Linked DNA regions of Homo sapiens. The protein of the gene in region 1 purifies or fractionates together with the protein of each later gene. This does not show direct contact. Each region holds a gene or a part of one and is shown in the gene's direction. Other genes may lie near its edges. The genes, in order: SLC30A4, PRPF40A, C19orf25, CSTF2, SPAG9, RBM25 and STX8.

Region 1 (4,278 bases):
AAGTAGAGTCCTAAAAGTACAATTGTTAGATCAAGTAATGTACACATTTTAAGTTTTGATTAGTTTTACCAATTGGCTCTCTAAAAAGGTAATACTATTTGATACTTCCACCGGTAGATCCTTGCTAACTCTGGCTATTATCAAACTTTTGATTTTTAAAAAAAGTTTGCCAATTTAATAGGAGGAAATAAATCTTATTCCTATCTGAATTTCATTTATTATGACTGATTTTGAGAATTTGGCCATTTCTGTTTATTATGAATTTTCTTATTGATTTTTTTTTTTTTGAGACAGCTCTGGAGACCAGGCTGGAGTCCAGTAGCATACGGTTCACTGCAGCCTCGACCTCCTGGGTTTAAACAATTCTCCCACCTCAGCCTCCTGAGTAGCTGGGACCATAGGTGCTCACCACCATGTCCAGCTAATTTTTAATGTGTTTTTTAGAGATAGAGTCTTGATCCTCTTGTAGTTCATGAGCTTGATAATTAGGTGTTCACATACATGTGTGAGACGTGCCACCCTGGAACCTTGTTACAACGTTGGCACATTACCCATTTGACATGAAGGGAAGGGAAAAACCAAGAGAGACGGAGTCTCACTATGTTGCCTAGGCTGATCTCAAACTCATGGGCTCAAGTGATCCTTCCGTCTCAGCCTCCCAAAGTGTTGGAGGATTACAGGCATGAGCCACCACACCTTACCTGTTACTGACTTTTGAGTGTACTTTTTTCTATCAAGAAATTAGTCTGTGATCACATACGTGACAAATATTTTTTCTCATTTTGTCATTTTCTACCTTGTGCATGGTCTGTAAATATACATAATTTGACCCTGGAGAGAGAGGAGTGGAGGGTAGGGAGAGGTAAGGGTAAATTAGTGGAGGATCCATATCAGTCAAGCTGCTAACCACTTTTTTTTTCTGTAAGTGCTAAACACATTTTAAATAAGAAAAATGATTAGCCAGGTGTGGTGGCATGTGCCTATAGTACCAGCTACTTGGAGGCTGAGATGGGAGGATCACTTGAGCCTGGGAGATCAAGGCTGCAGTGAACCATGCATGATCAGGCCACTACATTCCAGCCTGGGTGACAGAGTGAGACCCTGTCTCAAAAAAATAAATAAGAAAAATGACGTGACAGAAACAATAGAGGGCTTTTATCTCCTTAGAGGAAAGAATATAAAAAAGACTATATAATATTTAGTTGGTATGAAGTGTAGTAACCATGCTGAAAATGTATTTGTTATATGTGTTTTTCCCTCTAGAGGTTTTGTCAGCTATGATTAGTGTGCTGTTGGTGTATATACTTATGGGATTCCTCTTATATGAAGCTGTGCAAAGAACTATCCATATGAACTATGAAATAAATGGAGATATAATGCTCATCACCGCAGCTGTTGGAGTTGCAGTTAATGTAATGTAAGCTCTATTTTTTTCACATTAATATTTTCAAGTACTGTGAACTCAGAGACTATTGCATATGCATTCAGTAATATTCAGTGATATTTTGATATTTTAAAAATGATATAACTCATTAACTTTTCTGATAAATGAAACACTATGGACGTTATAAATTCCTCATTAGTTTGCCCAGGTATATTGGAGATTGAGTCAAAATCATGAATTTAAGTAGGACAAAGTTTTTTGTTCTTGTTTAACTTTTAGAATACTTTTGTGTTAACTAGATTTTTTTTCTTAAGCTATCAATTTTTTTCCCTTAAAACTTTTTAGGGAAGAAAGTTTTGAAAGTTTAAGTTAGGCCACATACAGTGGTTCACACCTATAGTCCCAACAATTTGGGAGGCCAAGGTGGGAAGATCACTTGCGCTCTAGAGTTCAAGACAGCCTGGCCAACATAGTGAGACCTCATCTCTTCTAAAAATAAAAATTAGCCAGGCACGGTGGCTCGTGCCTATGGTCCCAGCCACTTGGGAGGCTAAAGTGGGAAGGTCACTTGAGCACAGGCAATCAAGACTGCATTGAGCTATGATTGGGCCACTGCACTCCAGCCTGGGCAACAGAGCAAAACCCTGTCTTAAAAACAAACAAACAAAAAATAATAAAGTTGAAGTTAACAGATTTAATCATTTAGACCAGAGTCAGCAATTTTTTTTCTGTAAAAGGCTAGATAGTAAATATTTTAAGCTTTGAGATCTATATATTCTCTTTCAAAGCTACTCAACACTTGTTATAAAACAAAAGCAGCCACACTTAGCATGTAAACAAATGAACATGGCTGTGTTCCAATAAAACTTTATGTACAAAAAAAAAATCAGTGAGCCAAATATGATCTACCAGCCACAGTTTACCAATCCCTGCCCTAGTGGCTTCTATTTGTACTTAGAATGAAATGAATTTTTTTCTAAATTTTATTATTATTATACTTTAAGTTTTAGGGTACATGTGCACAACGTGCAGGTTTGTTACATATGTATACATGTGCCATGTTGGTGTGCTGTACCCATTAACTCGTCATTTAGCATTAGGTATATCTCCTAATGCTATCCCTCCCCCCTCCCCCCACCCCACAACAGTCCCTGAATGTAATCAAATTTTTACTGCAGCCTTGTTAGTAAGACTCTGTGTACCTCTACCACTCATCTCCTAGCACTTTTGCTCACTTTATTCTGGCCCACAGTGGCTGCTTTCTTTTTTCAAGTACACAGAGCACATTTTCATGTTGGGGCCTTTGCTCTGCTATTCTTCCGCCTAGAACACTCTTCCACCACTTGCTCTCTGACCTCCTTCAGGTATCTGCTTAGAGAAAATCTGAGAGGCCTTCCCTTACCACTCTGCCCATCATCCTCCATCCCCTTACAATGCTTTATGTTTCTCCAAAGCATTTCACATTGCCTGGCTATACCTTATGTACTTATTTGTTGGCTTCTCTGCCTTCTCTACTAGAACATAAGCTCCATGGGGGTAGGGATATGTCTATCTTACCACTGTTTTGACCCAAGTACCTAGAACAGTACTGATAAATAATAGTTGCTCCAAATTTATTAAATAAATGAGTTCCATGTTACCTCATTAGTGTCTGACTAGTGACAAATGTTTTTGTCAATATTGGGAAAAATAATAATGTTTTCTTTTATTTTTAACAGAATGGGGTTTCTGTTGAACCAGTCTGGTCACCGTCACTCCCATTCCCACTCCCTGCCTTCAAATTCCCCTACCAGAGGTTCTGGGTGTGAACGTAACCATGGGCAGGATAGCCTGGCAGTGAGAGCTGCATTTGTACATGCTTTGGGAGATTTGGTACAGAGTGTTGGTGTGCTAATAGCTGCATACATCATACGATTCAAGGTAATATGATTGGTAATTTTTCTATTTTAAAATGTACTTAATTTCAACATGAAAACTAAGGCTGATTGTCATATCAGTATACTGGACACCAGTGCCAGTTCTATTCATTTTACATTGATGTAAGTTTACTTGACAATCATTATAGTTCTTTTGTTAGCAGTAAACAAAATGATATCACGTCACAGGGTAACTTATCTGTATTTGGCTTTTGTAGTGCCTTCACTGGATAAATCAATTTTCTTATTTATTTATTTATTTATTTATTTTTGAGACAGAGTCTCACTTTCTCGCCCAGGCTGGAATGCAGTGGCACAATCTTGGCTTACTGCAGCCTCCGCCTCCCAGGCTCAAGTGATTGTCATGCCCCAGCCTCCCAAGTAGCTGGGATTACAGGTACACACCACCATGCCCAGCTAATTTTTGTATTTTTAGTAGAGACAAGGTTTCGCCATGTTGGCCAGGCTGGTCTCGAATTCCTGGCCTCAAGTGATCCACCCACCTCAGCCTCCCATAGTGCTGAGATTACGGGCATGAGCCACCATGATTGCCCAGATAACTCAATTTTAAAACTCGTGATTGAATTACTAGGTAGTAAAATGTGCACTGGACTGAAAATCCAGAGATCTGAGTGGGTTCTAGTCTTGGCTCTGCCATTAATGCTTTGACCTTGAAAGCAAATACCTGAACTCTAAACTTGAGTTCCCTCTTCTTTATTACAAGGGGCTTAAACTAGTGGCTGCTAAAACTTTTTCCAGAGCTGAGTACAGTGGCTGTGCCTATAATCCCAGCTGAGGCTGGAGGATCAGTTGAGCCCAGGAGTTCAAGAGCAACCTGGGCAACACACACACACACACACACACACACACACACACACACACACTTTTTTCCAGCTTTGACACACACACACACACACACACACACACACACACTTACTTCTTTCCAGCTCTGATATTCTAGAACATTTAGAGATGGCA
Region 2 (4,278 bases), on another chromosome or scaffold:
TATTTCAACTGAGGAACAAGCACAACTTACTAGTACCCCTGCTATTCAGGATCAAAGTGTGGAAGTATCCAGTAATACTGGAGAAGAAACATCTAAGCAAGAAACTGTAGCTGAGTAAGTTTAGTAACTTGTCTTCTGAAAATCAGTACCAGATTGCATTAAATAAAAGTAATTGCCAGTTTAGTTAGTGGCCATTAATAGTTTAAATAAATTTTTTTGAGAATCGTAATATCACCGTTAAGACAGTTGATCAGTTTTCAGGCCGAATTTTGGAGGGTTATGCCAGCAAACTTGAAAAATAGTTCAGTGAAATTTTAACAAGTAGAGCCAAGGCTAGGGAGTTGGGGCACAAATCTAAAAGATTGCCAAAAACCTTAGTAAGCAAGATACATCATATTTTGATGCAATATTTTACATCAGATCAGTGCAAAAATTCATGATTAACAAACTATCAGTATTTTCAGTTAAGACAGGTGTATTGTTTCTTCTTTGGTTATTGGTGTTTTGGGTTTCAACCTCCTATAAATCAGTTAAAAAAATACAGCTTTGTAGAAAAATGAATTATGGGGGAAAAAAAAGCAGTTTATGGCTGGGCATGGTGGCTCACACCTGTAATCCCAGCACTTTGGGAGGATGAGGCAGGAGGATCACTTGAGGCCAAGAGTTTAATATCAACGTGGGCAACATAACAAGACTCTGTCTCTACAAAAAATTTAAAAATTAGCCAGCACTTGTAACCTCAGCTACTGAGGAGGCTGAGGCAGGAGGATCACTTGAGCCTAGGATTTCAAGGCTGCAGTGAGCTATGATTGCACCGCTGCACTCCATCCTGGGTGAGACAGCAAGGCCACCCTGTCTCTCTTTTTTTTTTCTTTTTTTTTTTTTGGCACAGGGTCTCCCTCTGTCACCCAGGCTGGAGTGCAGTGACGTGATCAGGGCTCACTGCATCCTCGACCTCCTGGCCTCAAGCGATTCTCCCATCTCAGCCTCCTCCTGAGTAGCTGGGACTACAGGCACACACACCATGCCTAGCTCATTGGCCTGCCTCAGCGTGCCAAAATGCTGGGATTATAGGTGCGAGCCACTCCACCTGGCCAAGGAAAAAAGGCAATTTACAGAGAAAGAAAGTTGTCTAGGAAGTATATGAAAAGCCATTCAGCCATAATAATAAAGAAATACAAGTTAAAATAATACTGTGATTATTTTTCTAAGTGAAAGTCAAGTAGAGAAACATTTAAAAGATAACACCAGATACAAGAAAACTCTCTTTTCACTCTTAGTGAGACTATAGTAATACAACTTTTTAATAAAGCAAAGCTGTTATCTGTCAGAGTTCACGGTTTGTGTGTACTTGCATACCCTGTAGTCTAGTACATTTTATATGGCTATGCTTTATAGAGCTTTAGAAAGTGAGGTCAAGCTAAATTTCTTGACTTTAAGGGTGGCCTGAATAGTTCACCATAATCTCATTATTGAAACATGATTATCCATCTTAATATTTAAGCATGTTGCCTTCATCCATCCATCCCCTATTTTAAGTGTTCTTTTGTTTTTCGTATGTTAGTTTCCCAGAGTCAAAATAGATTTTTAACTTTTTCTGATGTTTCAAAAGTTTTAAAAGAAATCTGTATGGTGTATTTGAAGGCATGAAAATGAAATTAACATTTTGTTTTATACTTTCTCCCCCTTTTCTCTACATTTAAGATACACGAACATATATCTAATATATCAGAGACATCTTCCACATTGATAGAAATGTGTACCCATCATGTCAAATGATGGGTTATTATCATTTGATTGTGCATAAATGGAAGTGCTCCTCTATCAATAGATATTTAGGCTTTTTGGAATAACTTTATTTTGCGTCTTGTCATACTGAAAGTTTTCTTCAATGTTTTCCATAAGTTTAACATTAAACAGTTGTTTCCTGCTTTTTTTCATTCCAGCATTTCCTTGGTATAGTGTCTGAGTCATAATACGCTTTTGATTTTAATTACTATAACAGAGATCATTTTTTGTCAGTATCTACTACAGTGTCTCTTCGCCTAAGCGTTCTACTTATTTTTTTTTCATTCCCTGGCCCCCACCCATGCATTCCCTTATTATGTAGAAAGAAATGTAAGGCTTCTACCATTTTTTTCTCATCAGGAAAACCCCCAATTATTAAACAAGTTAGTAATTCTGGGTAGTTGTAATTTTTGTTTGACATCAGTGTTCAGCAAACTTTCATGAAATATTAGATTGGAAATATTTTTGGATTATTTGTGTCATACAGTCTTTATATGGTGACTCAATTCAGCTGTGGTAGCACAGTCAGCGATAATGTGTAAACAAATGAACGCGGGCATTTTCAAGTAAAACTATAATTACAAAAATTAATAGGCTGAATTTGTCTAGTGGGTTGTAGTTTGTCAATCCTGATTTAGATTGATCCTTACATCTTATTTATCTTCACACTTGCCCAAATCCTTAGAGTTATTATAGCACTAATGTGAAACCACTGAATGAGTTTAATAAGCCATTTAAAACTATTAACCTATGGGCCAGAGGAGCTAGTGTTTTAAGTCAGTTAAATGTTTATTTTGTCATTTGTCCAGGGTCTTAAAAACTGATTTAATAACTGAACTTTTAGGAAACGATTATCTTTATTTCTTTGTCTTCAGATAAGTGTGTTTTTAGAGTTCATATAGCTTTTATTCTAAATGTCAAATTTTATTTCAACATCAAACATTTAAACAATTTAGACATTATTTTTCTAAATGAAGCAAAAATTTATTTAATTGATAAATACCACATTTGAATTTCTCTCTAGTTTTACTCCCAAAAAAGAAGAGGAGGAGAGCCAACCAGCAAAGAAAACATACACTTGGAATACAAAGGAAGAGGCAAAGCAAGCTTTTAAAGAATTATTGAAAGAAAAGGTATTAATATTGCAGATTTTTATTGTTTCTTAGCTTTTTGACATCAAGCATGTATTATGGATTTTTATGTGATGTGTAATAATTACCCAACAAATGACGTTACTCTTTAATTAAACCTTGATGGTATTGATAATACCAATCTCATGAACTGTTGTAACTGAAAAGCAACTAAATATGTCTTTTTTTTTTTTTTTGAAGTACACTTTTGTGAAACTTTCAACACAAAAACTATTGTGTACAAGGTACTACACAAGCACATTTCTACCCAATATTTAATGTAAGGGTTTTTTTTTAATTCATAATAGTTATCTTTTATCCATAGTCTAAGAAAAAAGCATTTATGTTCTATTTAAATTTCAGTTAAAGTTTTCATTTTAGTTCATAGGTGTATTACACAGATTTGCCTTCAGTAAAAAACTATTTTTTATAACTTGTTTCAAACTCCTGCAAAGGGAAATGCTTGATGTTTGCAGTTAGTATTATACTCAGTTTCCTATTATGTGACTTAAACTATTCTTGTGTGAAATTTTAATTTTTCATTTAAATTATTTTCAGCGGGTACCATCGAATGCTTCATGGGAGCAGGCTATGAAAATGATTATTAATGATCCACGATACAGGTAGTACTTCAACTTTTTATTTACTTTTCACTTTGAGCATATAGCAGGCCTAGCACATTTAAAGTTGTGTAGAAAGATAAAACATTTAACTGTTGACTTCTGTTTAGGATACCAAGTATAGAGTTGTTTTATGTCTAATAACCAAAAAGTCAAAGGCTTATCAAACAATTTGAGTACTCCGCTACATATAAAATAATAATTATTTTAAAAGTAGAAATTACTTTCTACAATCATTTGTAATAAATTTTTGAAAATTTTTAAATTATATGTGTAAACAGTTTTATTTTTTTTTTCAAACCACTAATATTTGATTCTTTTGCCTGTGTTTACTCTTACATGGTATTTTTATATTAGTGCTTTGGCAAAGTTAAGTGAAAAAAAGCAAGCCTTTAATGCCTATAAAGTCCAGACAGAAAAAGAAGAAAAAGAAGAAGCAAGATCAAAGTACAAAGAGGCTAAGGAATCCTTTCAGCGTTTTCTTGAAAATCATGAGAAAATGACTTCTACAACCAGATACAAGTAAGATGTTTAGTGTTACATGGCCTATGTTTACTACATTGTTGTTTGTGTCATACTTTTCTGCCATGTGCAGTAGCTGATCCAGAGCTCATTAAATAAAACTAGATGATTATGAATGTGGAAACTTGATGAGGTACAAAATAAATCTGTAGTTAAATGTAGAATTTAACTTGTTGACTTAATAAGTTTTTGAGAGACTGGAAGAAGGGGAGAAAGAC
Region 3 (4,293 bases), on another chromosome or scaffold:
CATCTGGAAGGTTCTGTGGGCCGGTACTGGTCAAGGTGCATGAGTTGGTTTTATTCCCAGCATGCAGTTCGGTCACCTGAGGGTGCTGGGGCCGTGGTTTGAGCTTCATGGGCTCAGGTCCATGGCCGTTGAGTGTGGCGAAACTGAGGCACGCTGTGCGGGGGACGGGGGGCGCTCACAGAAGGTAGGGGGCCTCCTGTGCCTTCATCCAGGCACTGCCCGGCCTTTCCCACCCTGTTGCTAAAGCAGGTGATGACAGAGGTGATTTGATCAGCCCAGACCCGTGCGGCACGTGGAGCCTTCGTCCGTGGGAGACCACACTGCCGAGGGGCAGGCCAGAGCCGAGGGGCCCCTGACGCTTCTCTGAGTGACCCTGAAGTCGGTGCTGCTTCAGCCCTGCTGCACTGGGCTTGCATACGTGGGGGAGCAGGGAGCCATACGTAGTTTCTGCTGAATGTGGGAGTCACCAGGACGTCAATGCCCACCTCTCACCTTCGCCACCCCTGCCTCCCTAAGTGTGTGCTCCAGGAGGTTGCACGGCCCCTGGAGAGGTTTTCGGTGGCGGGCTTGTTGCGTCTCTGGCTTCCAGAGACAGCAGGAATGAGAGCCAGGCCAGCTCAGTGGAGTCCATCCCGGTGGGTGCCACGGCTTTTGCAGGAATGGAAGCCCCGCCCCCAGGAGGGCCACTGCTGGCGAGGCTTGAGCTCTTTCTGTGACCCGATCCCCCTGGTCACACGCTTTGCTAAGGCGGGTAGCCTAGAGCTGGAAGCCCCTCCTGCCACCCAGCCACTGTGCCTCTCCCAGCTGATGGACGAGGAAGCCTCCATTACTTGATTTTTGTTTTTATTTATTTTTGAGACAGGGTCTCATTCTGTCACCCAGGCTGGAGTACCGTGGCACGATCATAGCTTATTGCAGCCTCGGCCTCCCAGTCTCAAGCGATCCTCCTGCCTCTGCCTCCAGAGAAGTAGGGACCACAGATGCGTGCTACCACGCCCAGCTAATTTTTGTATTTGTATTTTTTGGTAGAGATGGGGGTGTCACTATGTTGTCCAGGCTGGTCTCTAACTCTTGGGCTCAAGTGTTCCTCCCGCCTCGGCCTCCCAAAGTGCTGGATTACAGGCGTGAGCCACCACACCTGGCTGCATCCGTCATGTTAAGAAGACCCCGGCTGGCAAGCTCACTCGGGGACTGCAGGGAACCCTGCCCTTTGGGGGCAGTAGTGAGGGGTGCCCAGGAGGATGGGGTGGTCAGCAGGCAGTGATGCTGCTGTGTCCTGTCTCAGACCCCCCAGTTCCCTTCAGGATGATGGAGGATGCGGAGGCCCCGGGAGAGCAGCTCTACCAGCAAAGCCGGGCCTACGTGGCTGCCAACCAGCGGCTGCAGCAGGCGGGCAACGTGCTGAGGCAGAGGTGTGAGCTCCTGCAGCGAGCCGGCGAGGACCTGGAGCGGGAGGTGGCCCAGATGAAGCAGGCAGCATTACCGGCAGCCGAGGCTGCCTCCTCAGGCTGACCTCTCGGGGCCTGCAGGCTTGGGCAGCGCACAAGGTGGCCTGCACCCAGGCTTTCCCTGGGGGTCCGTCGGCCCCAGACTGGCATTCACGGGGTCCCAGCCCACGTGGGTGTTGACACAGGCGCCCCTCCTGATGCTGGGGCTGCGGTTCATCCGTCGTCTCATTCATGCCGAGTTGGTGGGACCCACCCAGCTGGCTCCGTCCTGCGTGACCTGAGGGCCCCACTGGGGTTCTGGAAGAGGATAGGGACATTATTGCTGTACTGTGATTCTGTCGTCAGCTCACAGTGGCCGTGCTCTGCAGTGGGGCCCCTGGGAGCAGGTGCCACCTCCTTCCTCTCCCGGGGCAGGCACTCGCCTGTCCACTTCTGAGTCCAGGTGTTGGGATCGAGGTGTTAACTGTGATTCCATCCAGCGAGTGCCCACCCAATGTCAGAGCAGCCCGAGGGCCAGCCTGAGCCCCTGACCCCACTTCCTTCTGGGCCCCGGGCTCCTCCCACAAGCCACGTTGATCTTCACAACGACCCTGGGCCGCTGGGGTCACCCAAGAGAAGCAGCCCTGAGACCCAGCCAGGCTGGGCCTAGCTCCACGGCACGGGTGTCTCCCAGCCACTGCCCTTGCTGGAGGACCGCTGTGAGTCACTGGCCAGGAGCCCAGGGTGTCCTGAGTCTCATAGCCACCCTGCCAGCTGCAGCAGGTCCTGGGCCTGCTTCCCTGCGGGTTCTGGCCCTGGGGGAGGGGGCGTTAGTGCGGCGGAGGGTCTTGCCAAAGGCTTTTCATCCTAAATAGCAACTTGAGTGGAAACCTGGGCAAGGCGGCCCAGAGGCTGGGCCCTGCACATAAAGCTTTCGTGTGTGTCTGGCCGTCTGAATGGTGCCTCTGTGAGCGGCTCCGTCCCGGGGCCCCGGAAGCTGGGGAGGGATGGGTACCGGCGACCCCGGGAACCCTGCTCAGTCCTGCCGGGCACTGCATGCAGGGACCGTCCGCCTGACCCAGAGACCTGGGGCTGCCTCACCCTCTCTCCAGACCCACAGCCAGCTTTGTTTCTTGAATGTGGAAGATGTTTCTTATTCCCTGAAGAAAGGGGGCCTGCCACACACAGCCTGGGAGGCGCCTCATCCAGAAACTGGGACTTGGCTAGCCCGGCCTGGGCCCTAGGGACTTCTCACTGGTCATGCTTCTGAAGCTGCTCACCTGGCCGAGGGAGGTCCCGGCAGTGTCCCAGGGTGGAAGGTGGGGAGGGGGCCGGCTCCTGCCATCCCTTCCCACCCTGCACTTCTGTGCTGCTTGCAGTCATAGCTTTCCTTGTCCCCCCAGCTGGGCCAGGGCTGTGCTCCCTGAAGTGGCTTTGACGTGGGGCCGTCCCAGCTCCCGCAGCCCCTGTCCACCATTGACTCTCCCCGGTAGTGGCTGCTGTGGCTGCCCCATCCCAGCTGTTGCACCAGCCACAGCTCCTAGTGGCTCATGGGTGCCTCCTGCCCCACACTGGGGCCTGCCATAATAACTGGCCCAGGTACCAATGCCCAGGTTGGACCCCCTGTCTGGGGTGCTGTGCACCCCCTGGAGCCTGCCCTCCCTTGGGACCAGGGGGAGACTCCTGGCCTCAGCCAGTGCCTCCCCGGCCCATCTGGGTGGGGTGCCCACAAACCCTGTGCCCCCAGTTTCTGCTTTCTGGCTCTGCTTCCAGGGATCTAACCTGGGGGGTCTCAGCAATTCTGTGGCAGCACATAGACAGCGATGAACCTACCCGCCCACAGCCCATTTTGAGGAAGAGGTGATGGCGGCAGGCAATGCAAGAGCTCAGTTTATTAAATGTGTGCGAGTCGGACAGCTGACGGTGTCGTCCTTACGCCGGACAGATGGCTTTACATTTAGGGAAGGACAGGCTTTCACTATTTACCACTATTTACACGTCCGTTTAACACTGCAGAGACCCGGTACAGAAACGTGGGGTGGCGGCTAGGGGAATCAGACAGACCAGGCGCGCGCCATCAGGGCTGGACCGGGGCAACAGATGGGGCCGGGTGAGGTAATGCTGTCGGAGCTCGGGAGGACCATGCCGGTGGGCACGGCGCCCCGAGTTCAGCACCCACGTGTGGTCATGTTGGGGGCCAGTGGCGGTCACTGTCCATCAGCCTCAGGACACCTCCACCCTCCCTGCGTCCTCAGACCCTCAGCTCCTTAGGACTGGCCCTGGAGCATTGGGGGGCAGACGAGGACCCCTTGTCACCCTGGTGCAGAGAGGCCAGGTGGCCAGGCAGGGGCCGCGGTGGGAGGGAGGCCTTGCAGTGGGCGTACCTTGAGTTGATTGTCCAGAGACCGCGGACTGCCTGTCCCCTTCTGGAGACAGCTGGACTGGGCGGTGAGGTGTGGCTGTGGCCCCCACGGCAGGGGATGGAGAAGGCGAAAGTGAGCTCAGGACTCGGGGTGGGGGTGGGAGGCGGGGCTGGCAGCCATGTTGCGCACCTTGCTGCTGGGCAAGGCGTCACGGGCAGGAGCCAGCCAGACCCAAGTTCTGTGAGCTTCCAGGCGTCTCCCCATCATCGCTGCCACCACGCTCCCCCAAGAGGTAGCTCTGGGAGTTCCCCACGGCCCACATGGGGAAACAGAGGCAGGGAGCTGGGAGGGCGCCGCCCAGAGACTTACATATGTGGAAGGCAATGCCGCACCACCTTCCTGCATAACCCTGGCCCTGTCACCAGCGACCTGGTGGCTGGCTTCGCCATTTCCCTACCCTTTGGCAATTAGGGGCGCAGCGGGCCGGGGCGAGTGTGAGGGTG
Region 4 (4,278 bases), on another chromosome or scaffold:
TTATTACTGCCTTCTGACTTGGGCTGTTTCTTAGCTTGTTAGAAAGGGAAGACTTGGATCTCCCTGTAGCTTCTCTGTCCCTTAGGGTGGTGATTTTCTGGCTATCAGGATTGTAGTTCAAAAAAAAACAACCTTATCCCACAATAAATAGCTATTCATTTGGAGCAGAGCCCCTGAAAATTTAGGGGTTAGAAAGTAGTCTTGATTGGGGTACAAACCAACATCATGTACACGGTTTTTTCCAAGATATACTTGCCCGGATCTCATCCGAGGTATAACTCAGAATCTCTTATTAGTAGGATCTGAGCATGGATAGTTTGAAAAACTTCCCCCAAATGATTCTAATGTGAACCCTGACTGGGAACCACTGGGTTAGAGTATATGAAGAGCTGTTAGTGGCCATTTAGATAATCTTAGGTTTAGAGAGACCTGTGTTAATTTATTGTCATCACATAGCCTAAGTGAACAGTGGAATGTGAAAGGCAGTTTATTAATAATCACCTTAAAAGGTGTGGAACCGAAGTCTTGTCTCCTCTCTTTTATTTGGATCTCTCTGCCTGTGTGTACATGCTCCCTCTTCATCTCGACTTGGTTGTGGAGAGGTGGTATGTGTGTTTCTTCCGTGAGTTTTTATATGCTGGCACCTTCATTTCCCTCTAACTGCTCCACCTTCCTTTTCCCCCCTTCCTCTGCGTACTTCTCTCTTCTTTTTTTATGTGTCTTCCTCCCCATGTCTGTGTGTATGAGAGAGAGAAAGATAATGGCAGAGCTGGAATGGAATACATCAATCATCTAATTCCCTCAGTTTATAGATTTGGAAATTAAGGCCCAAGAATTCAGGTGACTTGACCAAATTCACATGACTAAAAAGTGGCAGAGCAAGGAACAGAAGCCACTACTTTTTCCACTTTACTACTCTGTCCTGTTATCTGCACATTTGTGTGTGTGTATATGTGTGGATATGTGTCTACCCCCTCCTCTGTAATATGAAATACAAATAGAGGGTTTTTTTGCTATGTGTAGAATAAAACTGTTCTCTATTGTGTTTGAAGTGTTTGTGGGCCTTGATTTTTATTGTACTCTCTATGGTCAGTAGCCTAGTAACAGAAATGGTTTTTATGCATTCATTCTGTCACTCAGCAAATATTTATTGAGCACCTACTATGTACCAAACATAGATCTAGGTACGGGGGATACTGCAGTGTGAACAGAACAAAGCCCCTTCCCCCATGGGCTTACATTCTAGTTGGGAAGACAGATAACAAACAAATAACTACATAATGCGCTTACATAATTTTACTGGTAGTTCTATGATGCAAGACATTGCAAGTAAGGGTTGGAAGAACATTTCTGGATAATATTTTGCTCCTTTCTCTCTGCTGGTACTTGAACTTATTACCCTAATACTAGGTTTATACCATTTTTATTAGTAGATTCGATAAAGCCAATTAGATCTGAGGCAAGAGAAAATACAAATTTTATCTTCAAACCTTTAAAAAAATTTTAAATTAATATATTAACTTATAAATATATATATTCGTTCATCTATAAAAGATATATGTATTAAGAACTTCAAGCCAGGCATGGTGACATGCACCTGTAGTGCCAGCACTCTGGAGGCTGGGGCAGGAAGACCATTTAAGTCTAGGAACTTGAGGCTGTGGTGCATTCTGATCGCACCTGTGACTAGCCACTGCACTCCAGCCTGGGCAGCATATTAGACTCCCATCTTTAAAAAAAAAAAAAAAGCCAGGGTAGAATCCTGTAGTCCCAGCTACTCTGGAGGCTAAGGCAGGAGGATCAGTAGAGCCCAGGAGTTGGAGGCCCGCCTACACAAGATAGTGAGACCACATCTTAAACTAAAAGGAACCTTGCTTCCTCTCCTATGCTTGTCTCCCCTGTGGCCCTCTAGGTCCTGTAGATAATCACTTTTATTAGATTTTTCATGTTACTTTCTGGAAAACATGAATATATATTATTTTTCCCCTTTCACTGTTCTATACCTTTTTTTTTTTTAACTTAACAACATGTCCTTAATTCATACTTTTAAATTAGATTTTAAAATTAACTCTAGTCCACTTAGTTAGAAACTTGTGGGCAAAAGGCTTATTATTACTAGGGTGATTATATAATTTATCATCTAAAGGAGAACATGAAAGAAAGTGCTGTTACTTTACTTGGAGGCAAAAACATAAACTGGGACTATCTTAGGGAAACCAAGATGTATGGTCACTTTTGCTAGTACTTGTCTGCCTAGAACAAGCACACCTAGAAACTTAAAATGGCCGTTATTGAGTGGTTAGATCACAATTACAGTACCTCAGATTAAAGCTTCAAAAAGATTATACTCAATTCCGAATTGTGCTGCTATAAACTCATGTGACCAAACACCACCTGTTCCCCAATAACCTATGGAAATAAAAAATTTTAAAAAAAAAGATTATACTCATAGGTGTTTCAGACCCATAATAGCTCGTTAATGTTCAGACTGGTCTCTGGAAACTTGTCTCTGGTTTCAGTATTGATAATGAACAGAACAGTGATAATATTCTAGCAGTCTATACAAATCTGTACTAATGTTTCATCTATCCATTGTCTTTGGGAAATGAGTTAATGCATGTAAGTGAATGTTCCAGATAATAGAACTATTCTACCAAGTTTTTTAACTTTTTTAATAAAAAATTATAAAAAGTATTTGATATTTCCTTTCTTGAACAGGATACAAAAAAATAGTTTAATCAGTTTTGACTACTCAAGGTCATCATTGAATAGATTCATTATTGTCTATACCGTAATATAAAACATAGTTATCTCCTGTTTGGTTTCTGGTCTCCTTCACTGTCAGGCCGTCACCTGGCTCTTCATATTACTGAAGTGGTATCTGCTCCTAACAGTTATTTATCCGTATTTCTTTTATGTTTTGCTGCTTCTAATCTGCTGGGTAAGCAGGTAACAAGTTTGTTAACAATATGTGTTTATTAAGAGAGTACCTAAGCTCTGGGTGAATGCCTGAGTGTGAACATAATGCTTGTATAGGGACATTCTAACAGTTAGATTTGGTACTCAAGAGGTCTTTTCCTTGGGTTCTGGTAGTCTTGCAAAGGGTTGAACTCATTGAAGATCTTAAGTACCAGTAAGTATGATATCACTGTACTTGGTTTTTTCACTCCAGTCAGTCATATTTTTTGGTCTACATTTAGCAGAAAGCATCTGCCATATGTTCTCTATGGAAAGCTATAAACAGCAAATGTTGGGCTAATAGCAGTCTTTTTCCTGGAGGCCTTCCCATTGCCTTTCTGCCTCTCTGACATTATGAACATCTCTGCCTCACTTGTGGGATAGGGCCCTTTGGGACAAACTACCTGTATCTGATTGAACTAGGGTAGGGGGTGGCCCTGTGAATGTAACTTCCCCAGTGGACCAGCATACATTTTCTCTAGACTCTGTTGGCTTTCATTTGTATTTCCAGTGAGCACTAGTTTCCAGGGTGTTCTCAGTTTTCACTGTGCTTATTTGGCTGAATTTTGATTAATTCAGTGGTATCCAGTTGTGCTGTGTAATATTTGTTGATGATGCTGGAGGTGTTGTAAGCAAGTATGTCGAACTTGCTAGTTGATCTCTGGCTAAACCCTGCCTTCTGCTATTGCTAACAGTAGAAAATGATCTTCAGAGTCATTGATTTGCTTTTTTTACTCATATCTGTATAGAGATCATAATTTGTCACATTATTACTGAATTCAGGTTACCTATACATTAAAAATGCCAAAAATCTCTCTTTTCTCTTTGTACACATAGGTCCCAGTCATGCAGGGAACAGGAATGCAAGGAGCAAGTATACAGGGTGGAAGCCAGCCTGGCGGCTTTAGTCCCGGGCAGAACCAAGTCACTCCACAGGATCATGAGAAGGTAAGCAACACTGTCTGACTGCCTCCTTATGCACAATTCTAGCCTTTTTGATTCCTCTTTTCACAGTTACCATGTGACGATCCTGGGTCTTCAAAGTCCCTTTGGAGGTGATGTTTATTCTAACTTAGAACTCTTTTATGATCTTGTTACCTGAAAATTTGTGAGTCTGGTCCTGAAGTTCCTAATGGATGTGAAGTTCTTAAGTGGATGTAAATGGCAGCTTATTTTATATTTCACACTCATCTGCCAATAGCAGGTTTTTCTTGTTCAGGCCAGATTGACCTGAAAATCCACACCCTTTTTCCTTCCCTTTCTACTTTATCCCTAAAAACAATAGTAGATTCCCCATGATTATATCTTTCTGTTTTTATA
Region 5 (3,500 bases), on another chromosome or scaffold:
AGTATTACTTCTATGGTGAGGTTATTGTTCATTTTATAATATTAGGTTATAAGACCTGTATTTACAACCATTAGTTATTTTAAGAAAACATGAAAATGCTAAACATTTCTAGACTTAATATTGTTTTCTTTTTCACCTGAGAAGCTGTGGTGTGCTGTTGGAGTCAATTTATCTGGTGGGAAGACCAGAGATGGTGGTTCTGTTGTTGGAGCAAGTGTATTTTACAAGGATGTTGCTGGTTTGGATACAGAAGGCAGTAAACAGCGAAGTGCCTCTCAGAGTAGTTTAGATAAGTTAGATCAGGAACTTAAGGTAAGTGTGTGTACTAACATTTGACCTGGTTTATGAGACTATGAGTTTAACTCTTTCATCCAAAATTTGCCTCTGGGTCCAGCTTCTAATTGGGATTACTATGCCCTGGCTTACTGTCCCTCAGCACCCTTTTAAAATCAATTTTAAAATATTGAGGTATAATTTACATGCAATAAAGTGTGCACTCGAAATGGGTATAGGTCAGAGTTTTGACACATGTGTACACGTATGTAATCACTACAGTGATCAAGCTAATGGAACATTTTATCATTGTTCTGCTTTACCTGTTAGTTTTGTGTTGCTGTTTAGAGACAGAGTCTCACTCTATCACATAGGCTGGAGTGCAGTGGCATGATCATGGCTCACTGCAGTGTTAACCTCCTGGACTCAAGTGATCTGTCCACTTCAGCCACCCAAGTAGCTGGGACTACACACCCACACCACCACACCTGGCTAATTTTATTTTTTGTAGAGACGAGGGTTTCACTGTGTTGACCAGGCTAGTCTCACACTTCTGGCCTCAAGCAGTCCTCCCACCTCAGCCTCCCAAAGTGCTGGGATTACAGACGTGAGCCACTGTGCCAGCCTAACTGCTAGTTTTTCATCTACTAATTAATATTGATAGGTGGTTGTATTAGTCTATATTCACACTGCTGATAAACACATACCCGAGACTGGGAAGGAAAAAAGAGGTTTAATTGGGCTTACATAGGTAACCTCTGGGGAGGCCTCAGAATCATGACAGGAGATGAAAGGCACTTCTTACATGGTGGCAGCAAGAGAAAATGAGGAAGAAGCAAAAGTGTAAACCCCTAATAAACCCATCAGATCTCGTGAGACTTATTCACTATCACGAGAATAGCATGGGAAAGACTGGCCCCCATGATTAAATTACCTCCCCCTGGGTCCCTCTCACAACATGTGGGAATTCGGGGAGATACAATTCAAGTTGAGTTTTGGGTAGGGACGCAGCCAAACCACATCAGTGGTTGTATTTTTACCCTTCCAAATAATCTGGAAATAAATTTGAAATAGTATTGCCTTTTACTGTAACAGCACCACCTTATGAATATTTGTACATACATATTGTTTTAAACATTTTTCCTCCTTTGCCTATACAGGAACAGCAGAAGGAGTTAAAAAATCAAGAAGAATTATCCAGTCTAGTTTGGATCTGTACCAGCACTCATTCGGCTACAAAAGTTCTTATTATTGATGCTGTTCAACCTGGCAACATCCTAGACAGTTTCACTGTTTGCAACTCTCATGTTCTGTGCATTGCAAGTGTGCCAGGTAAGAGTGAGTCATGCGTTTCTCTGCCCTCCCCTCCATCCACCTACCTGCTGGGCACTGATGTAGCAGCTGAAGATGCAGTTCTGCACCTTGCTGTCATGAAGCTTATGTTCTAGTTAGGGAAGATTAAAAAACAAACTGGAAACCATTGAATAAAGAAGATATTTTCAGGTAGTGAAAAATACTGTGAAGAAAATAAAACAATGGGAATATGAGAAAATAACTGGGAGCCAGAGGACTGTTTGGATTAATTAATAAGGAAAGGTCTTCTAAAGTTTTGGATTAAACATTATGTGATGTTAAAACATTAGTTTAAAAATTAAAGAAGTGTATGTGATATATCCATATGTTGGAATATTATTCAGCCATAAAAAGGAATGAAGTTCTTTTTTATATTTTATTGTGGAATACTTAATATGAGTTCTACTTTTTTTTTTTTTTTTTTTTTGAGACAGAGTCTTACTCTGTCACCCAGGCTGGAGTGCAATGGCATGATCTCGGCTCACTGCAACCTCCACCTTCCAGGTTCAAGTGATTCTCCTGCCTCAGCCTCCCGAGTAGCTGGAATTACAGGCACCTGCCACCACGCCCGGCTAATTGTTTGCATTTTTACTAGAGACGGGGTTTTACCATGTTGGTCAGGCTAGTCTTTTTTTTTTTTTTTTTTTGAGATGGAGTCTTACTCTGTCACTCACACTGGAGTGCAGTGGCACCGTCTCGGCTTACTGCAACCTCTACCTCCTGGGTTCAAGTGATTCTTTTGCCTTAGCCTCCCAAGTAGCTGGGACTACAGGCACGAGCCACTACACCCGGCTAATTTTTGTATTTTTGGTAGAAATGGGGTGTCACCATATTGGCCAGGTTGGTCTCGAACTCCTAGACCTCGTGATCTGCCCGCCTCGGTCTCCCAAAGTGCTGAGATTACAGGTGTGACCCACCACCCCGGGCAGTCAGATTAGTCTTGAACTCCTGACCTCAGGTGATCCACCCGCTTCGTCCTCCCGAAGTACTGGGATTACAGGCATGAGCCACTGAACCCAGCCTGAGATCTACCCTCTTAACACATTTTTGTTTTTGTTTTTTTGAGACAGGGCCTCACTCTGTTGCCCAGGCTGGATTGCAGTGGTGCAGTCACAACTCATTGTACTCATTGCAGCCATGACCTTCCGGGCTCAAGTGATCCTCCCAGCTCAGCCTCCCAAGTAGCTGGGACCACAGGCGCACACTACCACACCTGGCTAAGTTGTTTGTACTTTTTGTAGGCAGGGTTTCACCATGTTGCCCAGGCTGGTCTGGAACTCCTGGGCTCAAGTGATCTGCCTGCCTTGGCCTCCCGAAGTATTGGGATGCCCAGCCCTCTTAACAAATTTTTAAGAGTACAATACATTATCCTCTAGGTAGAAGTTCTGACACATGTTATAACACAGATGAACCTTGGAAACACTATGCCAAAGGAAATAAGTCGGACACAAAAGGACAAATATTATATGATTCCGCTTATATGAGATATCTAGAATAGGCACATTCATAAAAACATAGAGTTTCTGTGTGAGGTGATGGAAAAGCTTTAGAAATAGGCCGGCCATGGAGGTTCACACTCATAATCCCAGCACTTTCAGAGGCCAAGGTGGGACGATCACTTGAGCCCAGAAGTTTGAGACCAGTCTGGGCAATATAGTGAGACCTCATTCCACAAAAAATCAAAAAATGAGGCGGGAGGATAACTTGAGTCGGGGAGGTCAAGACTGCAGTGAGCTACGATTGCACCACTACACACCCACCTGGGCAATGGGAGTAAGACCCTGTGTTTTAAAAAAAAAAAAAAAAAAAAAAAAAAAAAGACCTGGCATGGTGGCTTACACCTGTAATCCAGACACTTTGGGAGGCTGAGGTGG
Region 6 (4,278 bases), on another chromosome or scaffold:
TCTGTCTGTCATGAATGTTATACCCATTTTATACATGAAGAAATTGAAGTTTAAGGAGAGATTGTGTCTTGGCTATGTTTTATACTGAGTCTAGCCTCTGAAACCCATGCTCTTAACCACTAAGGTATATCTTCCCATTGTCTCCTGAAAACATAGTCTTAACTTTAATAAAACAGTTAACATAGTAGAAACACCATATTTCTATAAAGGTATAGCTATGGTATTTTTTTGCCAGTAGTGCTCTTTTGATATTATGAACAGTAAATTTACTCTGTCTTCTCTAACTTGTAATTATTGTGGCATTAAAACTTGTGTGAGATTTGACTTAAAATTAGACTACAGACCACTATGGAGATTAATATTCCAGGTTTTGGTGCCTCTTTCGTTGAAGAATGATATTCTGAAAATTAAAACATTTATAGAATGGTTCCTTAGCCGCAAGAAGTTCCTGTATGAATTTGAGGATTCATACCTTAAAATTTCTTGACTGTATTGTTAATTTTTTATTTATTTTTAATGTGACAATTATTTTTCTCTTTTAGGTTATGGCTCATAGTTCACCCCAGAGCATTTTAGATGATGTTGCCATGGTAAGTTAGAAATTCACTATTTTTATTTCTTTTAATTTAAAAAAAGTTTTTGGTTTTTTTTGTCTTAAAATATAGATGGGGTCTCACCACGTTGCCCAGGGTAGTCTTAAATTCCTAGGCTTAAGTGATCCTCCTGCCTCAGCCTCCCAAAGTGTTGAGATTACAGGCATCAGCCACCACACCTGGCCAGAAATGCACTATTATTAATATTTTAATTAACATCTATATAAACTCACTTTTGAATTTGATTCACTTCCTGCCTGTCTTTGTTCCAGAATCTTTTTTAGGCCTGAATTAAAACTTGAGTAATCCCAGTACTTGGGAGGCTGAGGCGGGTGGATCACAAGGTCAAGAGATCGAGACCATCCTGGCCAGCATGGTGAAACCCCGTCTCTATGAAAAATACAAAAATTAGCTGTGCGTGGTGGCGTGTGCCTATAGTCCCAGCTACTCGGGGAGTCTGAGGCAGGAGAATCACTTGAACCTGTGAGGTGGAGGTTGCAGTGAGCCGAGATCATGCCATTGCACTCCAGCCTGGTGACAGAGTGAGACCCCATCTCTAAATAAATAAATAAGGCTTCATTCTTTTCCACCAGTTCCATTCATGTTTTCCCTATGCCCAGCACAATGTGCTAGAAGCATAAAAGTAGAACAAATGACCTGTAGTAGCAGAGAGATAGGTATACAGGTACTGGAACCTTGATGTACTTGTTTGAATTAGATATGTAGAAAGGATAATGGAGGTAGAGGAGATAGAACATCTGATGGCATTGATAGCAGTTAGGTTAAGCATCACAAGGATTACTACAGGAACTGATACGTGTGTGTGTGTGTGTGTGTGTGTGTGTGTGTGTGTTTTAAGTCGGATACATGTGCAGGTTTGTTACATAGGTAAACTTGTGTCATGGGGGTTTGTTGAACAGATTATTTCATCACCCAGGTGTTAAGCCTAGTACTCATTAGTTATTTTTCCTGATCCTCTCCCTCCTCCCACCCTCTGCCCTACGATAGGCCCCATTGTGTGTTGTTCCCCTCTCTTCGTTCATGTTTTTTCATCATTTAGCTCCCGCTTATAAGTGAAAACATACTGTATTTGGTTTTCTGTTCCTGTGTTAGTTTGCTAAGGATAGTGGCCTCCAGCTCCATCCATGTCCCTGTAAAGGACACTATTTCGTTTTTTATGGCCACAAGATTGTACATATGTGCTGCTTTTTGGACAGGTATCCAAACACCTGTTGTATTGACAGTAAACATCAAATCCCCGTTGCATTTAATTTGGGATTACAGTCAGTGGTAGCATGTAGTTAACACTGTGATTTTGTGAGACAAGGAAAGGAGAAGAAAATTGATGGTAAAGGTTGAGCAAGAGATTGAACTATGATCTCCAAGTTAGGAAGAGAAGAAAATAGTATCTGAATAGAGCTGGTGGTTTGAATGAATTAAGGACTAGTGGTTCCAGTGAAGTTGTGGAAGGCGAATTGTAATAAAACAACTGAAAGGAGAGGTTATGGTCAGAGTGTAGAAAGTTCAAGTCTATATGTGATAGGTCAGCCCAGACGATGGCAAGGTGCATAGTATGACTATGGGAAATTCCTGGGTATTGGGAGTCAGATTGGAGAGAAATACTGGAAATAGTTGCCAGAGCACTCATTTAAGTGGGGGGAAAGACTAGATACTTGCCAGATAGCTGCTCTTACAGTGGATAAGGTGGTGAGAGCTCATGAACGTCCATGGAGTTGTTTTTTTTTTTACCAAGAAAGAAACAGTGAAGACCCACAAGTCATTCCTGTGGAGATTAAGACATTGAGAGTGAGAGACTGCCTGAGAAGTGCCGGGGCTCTAGGAGATAGAGGAGGGTTTCTGTTAAGAGGAAAAACCTAATTTAGTTGTTGATGTGTAGTATAAAATGGAATAGCGGTCCAAAGGGCAGAGCGGGAAGACAGCAATGGGAAGATGAGTAAGGAAGGAAAAATCATCAAGCATGATATGAAATGGTAGATGACTGGGAGTACTTGCACTTGGAACTGCCACCAGAGATGTCAGGGAGGGACATCGTGGGGTTTATAGTCAAAAAGAAGGATTGTGAGGTCTAGCTGCTTTGTGTCCAGGCATTTTATGGTGTCTAAAGCCAGATAACATTCCTTTTCTGCTGCCTAGCTAGCTTGATGCAGCTGTCATTTAGAACACCTGATAAAACATTTGTGAAAACTTCATTGCCTCAGAGGAAAGGAGAAATGTGAATAGATTTCAGTCCTTGGGGCTGAATTCTGAACTTTCCTGAAGCTTCCAGCCCCGTTTTTCTTGGAGTAGAGGGTGTCGTAGTTAGGCCTGAGTGAAGACATTTTTTAAATAAAACTGTGTTCTAGCGTTTGGCCTCAGCAGAGTTCCTATCATACATAGTAAAGATTTCATGTCAGTGTTAATTTTAGATTTTTTGATCTGTTGTAATATATTGATATTTGAAGTGTATTTAGACCACTGTTTATGATTTTGTGGCTCGTTGATTAGAATGAGAGGAAACCAGTTGAGCTAGTGTTGTCAAACAGCTCTGCTAAAAAGCTCATGGGGCCTTGTAAATATTTCTTGAATAAATGAGGAGACTGAATTTTTAGCCTGAGTACTGTTTCACTCTTAACAAAAGTCTGACTTCTTTATATTATACCTTTTTCATTTTATGTAAATTAAATGAAGTTTGGTTGCATTTTGTGCCTACATCTCTCTGAAGTGTGACTCAGATGTGAATTAGTGTTACAACAGAGTTCTTCAACTAAAGTCAAATCTGGCTCATAGAAATCTGATCAAAAGTTCTTTAATTAATTATTGCTATCATTGAGAAAGTGACAGAAATTTCTTTCTTTTAATTTCTTTCTTCTTTTCTTTTTTTTTTTTTTTTTTTTTTTTTTTTTTTTTTGAGACAGAGTCTTGCTCTGTTTCCCAGGCTATATGGAGTGACAGTGGCGCGATCTTGGCTCACTGTAACCTCCACTTCTTGGGTTCAAGCAATTCTCCTGCTTCAGCCTCCCAAGTAGTTGGGATTACAGGTGCCCACCCGCACGCCTGGCTAATTTTTGTATTTTTAGTATTGACGGGTTTCACCATGTTGGCCCGGCTGGTCTCAAACTCCTGACCTCAGGTGATCTGCCTACCTAGGCCTCCCAAAGTGCTGGGATTACAGGCGTGAGCCACTGTGCCCAGTCTCTTCCCAGGTATTTATTAAGCACTTGTTATATACCAGTCAGTTGTCAGAGCACTTAACTACATACCAACTCTTTTAATTCCCACTTAGTACCTACTGCTATGGTGTGTAGCTACATCGCCTCCACTTTAGAGGTGAGGGAACTGAGGCTCAGGTTAAGTAACCCAACCAAGGACCTATCGCTAGTAAGAGGCAGCAGTGCAATTTGAACCTATGTAGCCTGACTAGAGAATTTGAACCAATGTAGTCTGACTAGAGATTGAGTACTCTAAATTCCTACCCCAAACTTCCTCTATGAAGACCTGGCAACACTAGACCACATTTCTGGAGCACAGTCATAGCTGCCCCCTTCAGAAGGGAGCAGAGTAGGCCATTTCACCTCATAGCAGCCATAATGTAGAGGGGCAGATGTGTGTATGGGATGATGGCAGGAATAGTGATGGGGACACAAGGACCCTATAACTCATAAGTAGAGAGGAAGACAATTTCCTC
Region 7 (4,278 bases), on another chromosome or scaffold:
AATTGTCCCTAAGAAGTGTCCTCTGTTCATCTTTAAGTTTAGTAGCTACGTGTGGGTTGCCAGTTGGCCTAACTCTTCTGGTGTGAAAAGCGAGGCAAACAAAAAGAATATGCTTTTTTTGTTTTTGTTTTTGTTTTAAACAAAATCTCGCTCTGTCACCCAGGTTGGAGTGCAGTGGCGCAATCTCAGCTCACCGCAACCTCCTCCTCCCGGGTTCAAGTGATTCTCCAGCCTCAGCCTCCCAAGTAGCTGGGATTACAGGCACCTGCCATCACGCCCGGCTAATTTTTGCATTTTTTAGTAGAGACGGGGTTTGGCCATGCTGGCCAGGCTGGTCTCAATCTCCTGACCTCAGGTGATCCACTCGCCTTGGCCTCCCAAAGTGCTGGGGTTACAGGCATAAGTCACCACGCCTGGCCAGAATATGTGTTTTGGTTCAAGACAACCAAAATAGTAGTAGGCAGCTAAGGCGGCTTTCCTTGCAACAAAACCAGATAAAAAGACTCCTGGATAAAGCGCCCTTCACCCCTCCCTGCCTCTTGCTTTCCCATCAGCCTACTTGCCACGTTCCCCTGCAGCTACAGGGCAGAAGTGGCCAACACAGAGATCCACACTCTCTCGAAAAGTCAGCCTCCAGATTCTTTCTCCTCCTTCCCCTCCTCCTCCATGTCAGTAAGCACTGAGAGCTGTTACCTACACCCAACTTGTGGCAGGGGCGTTGGCAGCACAAGCTCCGTATTTTGCTCGTTTCCAGTGTTTCACTGGAAAAAAGTATGGACCATGACTCCAGATGACGAGTCTTCAGAAAACACCATTCCTGAGAGACTGTGTTTAATATCCTCTCCCAGTTTGAAAAGGAGTTTGTTTTCTTACATCTTTTTTTAATTGCCATGAGCTGGACTTGTAAATATTGTAAGTGGTTGAGTAATACTCATCTGGTAAACTGACCAAAGGAAATGGACATTTTTTTCCACTCTTGTAACCCTGGCATCCCATGCCTGCCCCTGAAAGGGACTCTTGAGTATTGGAAGGGAAAATCTGCCTCGCCAGGTGCCAGCGGGCCCAGGGCAGGAGCTGAGTGAAGCGCAGAGAAACGATCCCGAAGTCAGGAGCCGCAGCAGGTGTTCTGTGCTAGGGTTGGGGGCAGAGAGCATTCATTGTTTAAGAAGTTGGCAGCCTCCCAGAAGTTCAACTGTCTTTCCTTGTTCTGAAATGTCAAACATTTCCTTAGCTGGGGGAATGGATGAGTAGACCCCCCTGAGGTTTAAGAACTATTCTGAGGCAGAAGAAGGAAGTTCTGCTTTTCACACGTGACCGAGTACGATGTGAGGTCCCATGTCCCTCCGGCAGGGGGGTCGGCTGCGCCCCTGAAACTGGAGCCACCTTCCTACATCAGAAGAGTTGCCAGCTCTTCCCTGCCTCTGCCTTTAGGAACCGTCAGACCCTCTGTGGTTATGTGGGTAGTGGGGGAGTGTGTGTGTCTTTTTAATGGTGCCTTTTAGTGATACTTACTGAAATATTTGTAGATGACCTATGTCTGGAATTTGTTTCAAAATAATATGCAGGAGACAGGGAGCAGGTGAGGGTTTGCATAAAGCCAGACAGGCCATGAATGGATCCTTGCGAAAGCTGACGGATGGGCTCATCACTGTTCTGCGTGCCCTTCGGTCTGCTTTTGTATATGTTTAAAATTTTCCATCATAAAACGTTAAGGAAGGGAAGGAGGGAGGGAGAAAGAGAAGAGGATGAAAAGAGAAGAAACTCTTGATCCCGGTGTTTCAACCCCAGTGAGTCTGAGCCTCTCTCCCCGAGGGACCCCCACACTGTCTCGAATCAGGATGCCTCCACTCAAGCTCCACTGGTGTAGACAAGGGTGAGCGTGTGGGCAGAGGGGTCCTACCCACCTGGATTCCAATTCTAGTTCTTCCTCTTACCCGCCAGAGGGCCTTAGGTAGGAGAGTTCACCTTCCAGAACCCCAGCTTCCTCAGATATAAAACAGAGATGAGGGTTACTTACTGTGCAGAATTAAACCAAGTAATACACCCATAGCACTTAGTGCCAAACCTGGCACGCATGACTGTTTCATGAACGGTGTGGCTCAGCTTTCCCTGGCTTCAAAAAGATCCCTGCTTACTCATTCCGAAACATCCTTCAGAGGAGAGAAACTCCATTCAGAAAGGTGCCAGAGCTGGGATCACATTCGAAGAAAGCCAAACTTCTTAAAGAAAAAGGATTGCCGTGCTAAGGTAGATAAACACCTTCTCTTTGACCCAAAGAATCCAAAAGACAGCAGTTGGCTTTTGCTTATCGCTGTCACCTGCCATCTTAAAACGACCTCCTCAGTTGACCCTCAGTATATACCAGTTTACTTAAGCCTGTTTAAAGTCTCCCCCTGTTTGCTCTGAAAGGGTTTAAAATATAAAAGCCTTATTTGTCATGGCTCCTAAAATCCTCCTTTTCATCTTGGGACAAGAACCCAGTTTATCACATCTTATCAGCTTACTGTCCAAGATGTCCATCACTCAAGTTCATTTTCATTTATTTATTTATTTATTTATTTATTTATATATTTATTTATTTATTTATTTATTTATTTTGAGATGGAGTCTTGCTCTGTTGCCCAGGCTGGAGTGCAGTGGCACAATCTCAGTTCACCACAACCTCCGCCTCCCGAGTTCAAGTGATTCTCCTGCCTCAGCCTCCCAAGTAGCTGGGACTACAAGCGTGCACCACCATGCCCGGTTAATTTTTGTATTTTTAGTAGAGACGTGGTTTCTCTGTGTTGGCCAGGCTGGTCTCAAACTCCTGACCTCAGATGATCCGCCCGCCTTGGCCTCCCAAAGTGCTGGGATTACAGGCGTGAGCCACAGCGCCTGGCCCATTTTCATTTTTTATAGATAATGTGTGCCCTGTCATGCCTTTCCTGGGGCACAGTTTGTCTAATTCACAGCATCTGTGGTAGAAAAATTAGCAGCTTAGCCACCACTGTATTAATAATAGTTCCACTAGACCCACCCACCATGCGCTAAAACTGTACTATGAAAGGTCTCTGCAGCTCTTCTGTGGAAGAGCATTCTTCTATCTTGTCTCTGTAGTATTGTGGGTTGGCATTGGCCACTTTTTGAATTTTCTTACTCATTGGCCTTCTTGCCACATTTTCTCAGCTTCTCCCTCTCTGCTGACCACTCCTTCTATGCCTCTCTTGACTCTTCTTATCCCTTCCAAAAATTCAATACATTTACTCATTTGTTTTATACACACACACACACATGCACACACGTGCGCGTGTGTGTGTGCCTCTTTCCTGTGCCAGGCTCTGTTCTAGGTACGGGGGATATGGCGGTGAACGAGAACCCACAGTCCCTGGTGTAGATGTTCATGTGTCCAGGAGAGACAGACAGTAACTGAGTACCTAAATAATGATTCAAGGCCGGGCGCGGTGGCTCACGCCTGTAATCCCAGCACTTTGGGAGGCCCAGGAGGGCAAATCACTTGAGGTCAGGAGTTCGAGACCAGCCTGGCCAACATGGTGAAACCCTGTCTCTACTAAAAATACAAAAATTAGCCGGGCATAGTGGTGGGCACCTGTAATCCCCGCTACTTGGGAGGCTAAAGCAGGAGAATTGCTTGAACCCAGGAGGCGGAGGCTGCAGTGAGCCAAGATCACGTCACCGCACTCTAGCCTGGGCGCGAGACTCCATCTCAAAAAAAAAAAAGATTTAATAAGAGTTACCATGGAAACTTAGGGGGGCAAAGAGGGCACAGGTAACTGGAGGATGACAAAGAGTTCTTTGGGAAAATGCCACTGAGTTTGAGGGATTAACTAGACCACGAGTGGGGAGCTCCCGGATGGAAAGGATAGCGCGTGTCGAAGCTGGGAGGCAGGGCCCCTACCTTCTGCATCAGCCTGTTGGGGGCACCGGAGACAGCCAGGATGGCTCAAACACAGCGCGCAGAGTGCGGCTGCAGGGTTGCTGGGTCAGACTGTGCAAGACCCCCTTGGCCACTGTAAAGTTTGGATCTCAGTTTCAGCCACTGGAGGATTTAAGCAAGGAGGTGACCTGATCTCCTTTACATTCTGAAAAGCTTGCTGTAGTTCCATCGTGGAGCAGGGACCGGGGAAAGCAGTCCCTCACTGCAGGGAGCCAAATCAGGGATGGCAGTGACTGCGCATGCCTTGAGGCCTCTTCCCTTGGACCTCACGCTCCGGGTGTATGAACCAAAACCAGATGTGTGTTTTCTTCTTCCCAATCAGTTGTTGTTCTTGATTTCTTTGT

The links.
Region 2: the proteins of SLC30A4 (region 1) and PRPF40A purify together in Homo sapiens (affinity purification with mass spectrometry; 3 studies listed by BioGRID and IntAct, with this or other methods). This does not show direct contact.
Region 3: the proteins of SLC30A4 (region 1) and C19orf25 purify together in Homo sapiens (affinity purification with mass spectrometry; 5 studies listed by BioGRID and IntAct, with this or other methods). This does not show direct contact.
Region 4: the proteins of SLC30A4 (region 1) and CSTF2 purify together in Homo sapiens (affinity purification with mass spectrometry; 2 studies listed by BioGRID and IntAct, with this or other methods). This does not show direct contact.
Region 5: the proteins of SLC30A4 (region 1) and SPAG9 purify together in Homo sapiens (affinity purification with mass spectrometry; 2 studies listed by BioGRID and IntAct, with this or other methods). This does not show direct contact.
Region 6: the proteins of SLC30A4 (region 1) and RBM25 purify together in Homo sapiens (affinity purification with mass spectrometry; 3 studies listed by BioGRID and IntAct, with this or other methods). This does not show direct contact.
Region 7: the proteins of SLC30A4 (region 1) and STX8 purify together in Homo sapiens (co-immunoprecipitation; 3 studies listed by BioGRID and IntAct, with this or other methods). This does not show direct contact.

What each region holds. Positions count from the first base shown.
Region 1 is NC_000015.10:45,487,867-45,492,144, reverse strand, and holds part of SLC30A4 (probable proton-coupled zinc antiporter SLC30A4), read left to right. Parts: intron 1-457; exon of another isoform or gene 458-561; intron 562-1,263; coding exon 1,264-1,417; intron 1,418-3,102; coding exon 3,103-3,304; intron 3,305-4,278. UniProt on the Homo sapiens protein: Probable proton-coupled zinc ion antiporter mediating zinc import from cytoplasm potentially into the endocytic compartment. Controls zinc deposition in milk.
Region 2 is NC_000002.12:152,672,241-152,676,518, reverse strand, and holds part of PRPF40A (pre-mRNA-processing factor 40 homolog A), read left to right. Parts: coding exon 1-114; intron 115-2,812; coding exon 2,813-2,921; intron 2,922-3,476; coding exon 3,477-3,541; intron 3,542-3,895; coding exon 3,896-4,060; intron 4,061-4,278.
Region 3 is NC_000019.10:1,472,251-1,476,543, reverse strand, and holds the end of C19orf25 (UPF0449 protein C19orf25), read left to right. Parts: intron 1-1,285; coding exon 1,286-1,512; 3' UTR 1,513-3,343; downstream 3,344-4,293.
Region 4 is NC_000023.11:100,833,544-100,837,821, forward strand, and holds part of CSTF2 (cleavage stimulation factor subunit 2), read left to right. Parts: intron 1-3,795; coding exon 3,796-3,906; intron 3,907-4,278. UniProt on the Homo sapiens protein: One of the multiple factors required for polyadenylation and 3'-end cleavage of mammalian pre-mRNAs. This subunit is directly involved in the binding to pre-mRNAs.
Region 5 is NC_000017.11:50,991,869-50,995,368, reverse strand, and holds part of SPAG9 (C-Jun-amino-terminal kinase-interacting protein 4), read left to right. Parts: intron 1-144; coding exon 145-312; intron 313-1,433; coding exon 1,434-1,605; intron 1,606-3,500. UniProt on the Homo sapiens protein: The JNK-interacting protein (JIP) group of scaffold proteins selectively mediates JNK signaling by aggregating specific components of the MAPK cascade to form a functional JNK signaling module.
Region 6 is NC_000014.9:73,113,744-73,118,021, forward strand, and holds part of RBM25 (RNA-binding protein 25), read left to right. Parts: intron 1-542; coding exon 543-590; intron 591-4,278. UniProt on the Homo sapiens protein: RNA-binding protein that acts as a regulator of alternative pre-mRNA splicing. Involved in apoptotic cell death through the regulation of the apoptotic factor BCL2L1 isoform expression.
Region 7 is NC_000017.11:9,253,847-9,258,124, reverse strand, and holds part of STX8 (syntaxin-8), read left to right. Parts: intron 1-4,278. UniProt on the Homo sapiens protein: Vesicle trafficking protein that functions in the early secretory pathway, possibly by mediating retrograde transport from cis-Golgi membranes to the ER.